Linked DNA regions of Homo sapiens. The protein of the gene in region 1 interacts with the protein of each later gene in a biochemical or structural test. Each region holds a gene or a part of one and is shown on either strand. Other genes may lie near its edges. The genes, in order: ZMIZ1 and NOTCH1.

What was found.
Region 2: the proteins of ZMIZ1 (region 1) and NOTCH1 are reported together in a solved structure, tested with the Homo sapiens proteins (one study listed by BioGRID).

The regions. Positions count from the first base shown.
Region 1 is NC_000010.11:79,299,239-79,303,042, forward strand, and holds part of ZMIZ1 (zinc finger MIZ domain-containing protein 1), read left to right. Parts: intron 1-1,493; coding exon 1,494-1,704; intron 1,705-2,868; coding exon 2,869-2,974; intron 2,975-3,804. UniProt on the Homo sapiens protein: Acts as a transcriptional coactivator. Increases ligand-dependent transcriptional activity of AR and promotes AR sumoylation. The stimulation of AR activity is dependent upon sumoylation.
Region 2 is NC_000009.12:136,504,423-136,508,226, forward strand, and holds part of NOTCH1 (neurogenic locus notch homolog protein 1 preproprotein), read right to left. Parts: intron 3,718-3,804; coding exon 3,533-3,717; intron 3,016-3,532; coding exon 2,883-3,015; intron 2,552-2,882; coding exon 2,294-2,551; intron 2,218-2,293; coding exon 2,105-2,217; intron 1,460-2,104; coding exon 888-1,459; intron 683-887; coding exon 251-682; intron 1-250. UniProt on the Homo sapiens protein: Functions as a receptor for membrane-bound ligands Jagged-1 (JAG1), Jagged-2 (JAG2) and Delta-1 (DLL1) to regulate cell-fate determination.

The DNA.
Region 1 (3,804 bases):
CCCTGGGATGGCTTCCTTGGGCCCGAGTGGGGCCCTGGGCAGGGGGTAGCAGCATCTTCTGACACCTTCACGTGTTCAGCATCATTGACTGGGCCCTGTCCTGCGGTTGTCATGGGAAGTCTGCAGGTGCACAGGTAGATGAGCAGTCAAGGTGTCGTGGCCCAAGGGCAGGGAGCAGCTGTCACTCACCCCAGAGGAAAAGGTGGCTGGCTCAGACCTAGGCTGGGAAGCTGTGTATCCCATCTGAGACCGTGAGCTGACAAGAGGGAACGCAGTCAAGAATTCGAGTGTGACTCATGTGGCCAGAGCCAGGAATGCAGAGATGAGGCTGGTGCAAGGGCCAGGCCGGGGTCAGGCAGGCCCCATCTATTGCAGGGGGCTGACCATTGGGCAGGGCTGCTGCTCAGACACTTAGGCACGTGCTGGAACACAAGGTCCGGAGGTTCCCTGCTGAGCCAGGCCCATGCTCAGCACCTTCCACGTGTGACCCACTTTGATCTTGGAAATGGGCAACACTTTCCCTTTTGACAGAGGAGGAAGCTGAGGCTAGAGAAGTGAATTGGCTTGTGTGAGTTCTCACAGCTAGCCAGGGGCGGAGCTGAGACTTGGGCCCAGGTCTCCAGGATGCCAGAACCAACCCTGGGGGTGTCCACCCTTCAGTCCTTCATCCTCAGTCAAGACTCACAGTCTCACTGTGCTTGTGACTCAGACCCCCTTGACTGCCCAGTGAGCATCTCCAGCGCAAGAGCTGGGTCTGTGCCTGGCACATGCACACACACCCCTGCTGTTTTCTTGACCATGCTGAGCAGGCTGGGTGAGGTGGCCACAGATAGCTGGTGTGGGCGTTCAGAACACAGGAGCTGCAACGCTCAGGCAGGAGGACAGAGGTCCCTGGCACGGGACAAACCACTGTGCTGCCTGCCTGCACCCTGCTCACCCACGCTCCTTAGCTGGGAGTGTCCTGGCCTGGGAGGCCTCCTCTTCCTGGCTTGCTTGTCACACATATATGGTCACTGCTGGTTCCTGACACTCCTCAGTGCTGCGTCCTTGGGGGGCCTCCTTGGGGAGTGCTCAGAACCAGAAATGGCCGTGGCCTGGGAGGACAGCTCCCAGCAGGTCTAGAGATGGGGTTGGCTGGCCTCACAGCAGGTCTTGTCAAATGAGTGCCTGTTCATTTGCCCCTCTGTCTCTGTCCTGGGGATCCAGGAGTTGACCCCTACAGGGAGGACATTCCAGGGAGATGGGAGCTAGAGCTGTGGGGTGTGATGGGAATGATTGGTGTGCGGGGGTCTTGGGGGCAGTTTGGGTGTAGAGGGAGTATCCAGAATGGGAGAGGAGAACTCAGGCTGGGGGAATCATTGGGGTCAGGGATGGGGTCCTGAGGATCTCGGAGGTTGTGGTGTGTTTAGAGGTGTGTGACCTGGCTCGGGGTCACGGAGGCCATGGACAGCCCCCTGGCAGAGCTGCCCTGAGCACCCTCGTTCCCCACCTAGGTCTGACCTGGAGCTGCAGTTCAAGTGCTACCACCACGAGGACCGGCAGATGAACACCAACTGGCCCGCCTCGGTGCAGGTCAGCGTGAACGCCACGCCCCTCACCATTGAGCGCGGCGACAACAAGACCTCCCACAAGCCCCTGCACCTGAAGCACGTGTGCCAGCCGGGCCGCAACACCATCCAGATCACCGTCACGGCCTGCTGCTGCGTGAGTGTGGTGGGCCAGGGGCAGCGTTGGCACAGGCAGGCCCTGTTTCACGGCATGAGAGTGCGGAATACCCTGCCCCACTCTGGTCCTCAGCCTTGTCCCTGCGTCACCACCCCCGTGCCCACAGCCGCCAAAGATACAGCGTCCCCTTACCTGTGCCCAGGGCCTGTGCAATAACCTTCAAACCGTTGGGCCTTCAAAGCCACTGTGCCCTGGCTTCAGACGTGGCCTCTTCCCCTGGACACTCAGCCTCCGTCTGTTCTCCACACATGCTTCCGATTCACCCCTCCTGGCCCCTCCTCCCTACCCTTCATTCATTGGTGCAGTTCTGTGTTCCTCAAAGCCATGTCCTGCTTGCCTCATTCACCAGCAGTTGTCATTGTCAGCACCTTTTCCCCCAGACCCAACGCCCCCAAACCTGGAGTTAACGCGTTCCCTTCTTTCCCAACCCCCTTGTCTTAGAGTCACGTATGGGGGTCCTTCCAACCCGTGACTTGTTACCTAGGACCAGCTCTCAGCCACCCTCATGTCCCCTGAAGATCAGGGCCCAACACACAGGGCTTGCTCAGGCCCCAGTGGAAGTAAATTGCCTGCCCCACTCCACTGGCCTCTCTGTGGAGGCATGGAGAAGGAAACACTCTGATCCACCCTTGTGAGCTTAGGGGCACGGAGGCTACACAGAGATAGGGGTCACAGACCTGGGCAGCACATCCCATTCTGGCTGGGGAATGTGATGTGCTGTGTGAGGCTGCACAACTGTCAGAGTGAGGCGGCTGATGGGTGGACGTTTGGGATGTGCAGTTCTGGAAGGCTTCCTGGAGGAGTGAAGGGAGGGATGAGCACCCTGGCAGGAAGGGCTAAGGACACATGATGGGGAGGCAGTGGTAGGGGAGGTTAGGAAGCAAAGTGGGACCCAGGCTTAAAGCCTTGTGTCCTATAACCTTATCCAGGGAGTATTTCAGTGTCAAAGTCCACCTTGTCGATCTGCAGCAGAGGCAGCCTTTCCAGAGTAGTGCTCAGGCTCGCAAGTCCCAGGAGACACCCTGGGGGAGCCTCCTGGGCCGGCTGTGGGATCCTGGGAGCAGTCTAGGGCTGCTGAGGCTGCAGGCAGGGCGGGGTGTGGGGACAGTGCACAGGAACTGAGTGTCTCCTCTCTCCCCGCAGTCCCACCTCTTCGTGCTGCAGCTGGTACACCGGCCCTCCGTCCGCTCTGTGCTGCAAGGACTCCTCAAGAAGCGCCTCCTGCCCGCAGAGCACTGTATCACGAAAAGTGAGTCAGGGTGGGGACGGGGGTGAGGGCCAGACTCCATCCCCGCCTGAGTTTGGGACTGAGAAGCAGTCACCATTCACCTGGAACTGACCTTTGCCTCCGTGCATGTCACCACCGGGCCTGGAGTGTCCCTGAGCGCGCCCTGTCCTGAGGCTCATGCCCTCCTCCTGGGGCTGTTGTCGTGGTCAGAGAAGCTAGGTCCCATAAGAGCTGGTGGGAGTTCTGGGACCTGCCCTGTGTGGAAGAGCTGGCAGTCCAGCTTGGGAGCCAGAACAGGCATACCTGCAATAGCAGCACAGGACATGAGGCAGATTAAAACAAAATGTCAGGAAGCAGGCTTCCTGGAGGAGGTGATGACCTGGGCCAGGCCTTTAAAAGATGGGAGGATTTAGAGAAGAGGGGATCTTCATCAGGCAGAAGGCATGGAGGGTGGATTCCAGATTGGCCTCCCTACTTCAACAGCTCATGCTTTTTTTTTTTTTTTTTTTTTTTTGAGAGAGAGAGAGAATGTCGCTCTGTTACCCAGGCTGGAGTGCAGTGGCATGATCTCGGCTCACTGCAGGCTCCGCCTCATGGGTTCACGCCATTCTCCTGCCTCAGCCTCCCAAGGAGTTGGGACTATAGGTGCATGCCACCACGCCCAGCTAAGTTTTTTTTTTTTTTTTTTGAGACGGAGTCTTGCTCTGTCGTCCAGGCTGGAGTGCAGTGGTGCTATCTCCGCTCACTGCAAGCTCCGCCTCCTAGGTTCACGCCATTCTCCTGCCTCAGCCTCCCGAGTAGCTGGGACTACAGGCGCCCACCACCGCACCTGGCTAATTTTTTGTGTTTTA
Region 2 (3,804 bases), on another chromosome or scaffold:
TGTCCAGGGGAAGGCAGTGGCCCAGGAAAAGGGTGTGGCTGTGGGGTCAGGGCCCTGAGCTGGAATGCTGCCTCTACTCCTTGCCTGCGCAGGCCCTGAAGTCCCAGGTCCTCTCGGAACCTCCGTCTCTTTTACCATAAAGTGGGGAGAGTACTGCTTGCCATGGCGCCGGCCGTGAGGGGCAGGGAGGCCGTCGGGGAGGGCCCAGGAGAGTTGCGGGGATTGACCGTGGGCGCCGGGTCTCACTCACCCGCGGACGTCCATGGGGTCCAGCTCCCTCCGCCGCCGCCCACCCTCGCTGCCACCAGGGAGCAGCGAGGCCTTCACCTGGCCCAGCAGGGCGTCAGGTGCGGCCCAGCCCTCGGCGGCACGCTTGATGGGGTGCTTGCGCAGCTCCTCCTCGCGGCCGTAGTAGGGGAAGATCATCTGCTGGCCGTGTGCGTCACGCTTGAAGACCACGTTGGTGTGCAGCACGCGGCTGAGCTCCCGCAGGAAGTGGAAGGAGCTGTTGCGCAGCTGCTCCGGCGGCATCAGCACCACCACCACCAGCGTGCCGGCCGCCAGCCTCTCGGGTACATGCTCCGCACAGTCCAGCCCGTCCCACTCGCACTCCGCGCTGTTGCAGCCCTGGTCGCAGTGCCCGTCGCTGAAGTGGTCCTTGCAGTACTGGTCGTACAGGGGGCTGTGGGGGGCGGGACACGCTCAGGCCGCCTTCCTCGGGGGGCCTCGCACCCGCCGTCCGGTGCCTCCAGCCCACTGGCCAGCCGCGGGGGACGTCCCTGCACCCCCTGAGCAGAGCCTTAGAACTGCATGCTGGCCTCCGGGCCCAAGCCAGGCCACATCCAAGTTCAGGTCCTCCCTCAGCCCCATGAGCCCCGCAGCCTTACTTGCACTGGCCTTCCGCACGCTGGCAGTCAAAGCCGTCGAAGAGGCAGCCGGCTGAGTTGCACTGGCTGTCACAGTGGCCGTCACTGAAGTACTTCCAGCACTGCAGAGACTGCGTGCAGTTCTTCCAGGGGTCATTGAAGTTGAGGGAGCAGTCACCGCCGTCCCAGCCGCACGCGTGGTTGTTGCACTGCAGGCTGCAGACCTTGTTGCCCGCGTCCTCCTGGCACTCGGGCAGCTCGCACGCCTCCTCGATCAGCGGCGGGGGGATGTCGCGCCCGGCCCCACCCCCGAAGCTGTAGTCCAGGATGTGGCACAAGAGCCCGTTGAATTTGGCGGGGCACAGGCAACGGTAGAAGGGGCTCTCGGATGTGGGCTCACAGGTCCCCTGGTTGTAGCAGGGGTTGCCGCCCAGGCAGGGGCTGCTGGCCGGGAACTGGCATTCGGGGCCCGTGAAGGGGCCCAGGCACAGGCAGGTGGGGCTGCGCGGGCCGGAGATGCATGTGCCGCCGTTGAGGCAGCGCAGGCTGCCGCAGGTACGAGCGTCATTCTCACACGTGGCGCCCTCGAAGCCCTGCCCGAGAGGGAAGACAGGACGGTGTCGGGGTGGGCCACCCCCCGCCCCCCCGCCACCTCACACCCAGCCCTCGGCCAGCAGTGCCACCGCTCTCCTCTAACCTGGGAGGCGGCCTGCAACCTTGCCCCCAGCAGCAAAACCCTTTACACACATTCTACCAACAGAGAAAGATCGGGGGTGCCAGGGGGTCGGGAGATGGAGGAAGGGGTAAACTGGTGGAGTGCTGAGGACTTTAGGGCAGGGACTCTCTGCCGTGATCCTGCGAGGGTGGGCAGGCATGTCATACCTCAGCCCAAACCCACAACCACAAAGCCAAGGGCAAGCCCCAGGTACAGGAAGGGCTGCTGTTGGTAACAATGTATCACTGAAATCCAGAGTGAAATTGATGCAAGCTGCTAACCAGGGGAACTGCGTGCAGGGGACAGCCACCCCAGGGAGTCTACTTCCTGCTCCATTTTTCTATAAATCTAAAATGTCTCTAAAATCATTTATTGAAACTAAAAAAAAAAAAAAGACATCAGGGTGAGGAGGAGGATGAAGGCCGGGAGGATCACTGCCCGGTCTGCGCCCCGAGGCCCCCACGTGGACCTCTCCAGGTGTCTCCCCTGGCGGGCCCCTGCCTCCCTGCACCCCTGCACCTACCGCAGGGCACTTGCAGATGAACCCGCGGGCGGTGTTGGAGGCCACGGCGCAGGTGCCCCCATTCTTGCAGGGCTTGCCTTTGCAGCCATTGATGACGGACTCGCAGCGGCGCCCTAGGGGTAAGAGCAGGGCAGTGAGAGGCTCACCCTGCTGCCCCACACGCCCCACCCGCCTGGGCGCGGCACCCACCGGTGTGACCAGCACGGCACTCGCAGTGGAAGTCATTGACGCGCTGCACGCAGTTCTGGGTGCCACGGGCGTCGCAGGGATTGGACAGGCACTCGTTGACATCCCCCTCACAGCGCTCACCCACGAAGCCCGGCGGGCAGGTGCAGCTGTAGCCGCCCACCTGGTCCACGCAGGTGCCGTTGTTAAAGCACTTGGGGCTCCGGGACACGGGGTCAACGGGGGGATTGCAGTCGTCCACGTTGATCTCACAGTGCACACCTGCGGGGCCAGGTTTCGTCAGTGGCCCAAGCCCGCCACACCCCGGCCCTGCCGTGCCGCGTGTCCGTCCCGGAAGACGAGCGCTCAGGTCTGGGGCTGCACGGACACTCGGGAGAGGCAGGTGTCAAGGGTGCCGTGGAGACGCCCTTCCCACTGGGACCCCCGCTCTGGGCCCTTTCCCTGGGCAGCTGTGAGTCGGCCTTGGCCTCACACAGGAAAATGGGAGTTTCTGGCTGGTTCCTGGATGCCTCTGGCCGGTCCCGGGGTGCCTGCCCTGCCCCTGCCCTGGCCATGGATGGCCAACACCAGCCCTCCGTGCAGCGGCCCTTACCCTGAGTGCCCCGTGGGCAGGAGCACTTGTAGGTGTTGGGGAGGTCGAGGCAGGTGCCCCCGTTCTGGCAGGGGTGGGAGAGGCACTCGTCGATCTCCTCAGAGCAGTTCACCCCGTGGTAGCCGGCCACGCACTGTGCAGGCGACAGAACGAGGGGCCCTTCGGCTCAGCCGGCGCCAGGATGCAGTGCTCCCACACCCCACTGTGAGGGCTGACAGGGCCACATGAGCTGCCCTCAGGTCCAGCGAAGCCACGGGCCCCTCGCTCCTGTCAGACCTGGAGAGAGACCCAGCCCAACAGACCCTGGCGGGGCCTCGGTGACCGGAGTCACTGCCTGTTGGGGGTGGGTGGACCCCGTCCCATAGGATAGAGGTGAGGGCCTCAGGGTAGGTGTTGGCCAAGCCCAGACACAATCTAGGGGAAGGGAAAACCCCATCCCACTTCTCAGTATAGGTACCCTCCTTCAGGCTTTCCACAGGCCACCTCTTCCAGGCAGTCTACCCTGATTACCCCAGCCCTCCCCTAATGAGACTGAACAGTGCATGGGCCTATCAGGTTCAGTTTTCTCCACTGGGCCAGCTCCCAGCCAGGGCCTGGTGTGTGGCAACACTCGTGCCGGCCACAACCCTTACCCTAGGAGGGACCCCCACCTTGCAGGAGTAGCCGCCCAGGTAGTCCGTGCAGGTGGCCCCGTTCTGGCAGGGGCTGGGTGAGCACTCGTCCACCAGGTCCTCACAGTAGCTGCCTGTGTAGCCCGCCTGGCAGCGGCAGTGGTGCGTGTTGCCCGCGTCCACACAGAGCCCTCCATGCTGGCACAGGCGGGCAACGTCAACACCTGCGGGGGATGGGGTGGTAGACAGGTGAGGCCCAGGCCCACAGAGGACCTTGATGGGCTGGGACCCGAGCTGGGTGGGCACAGCAG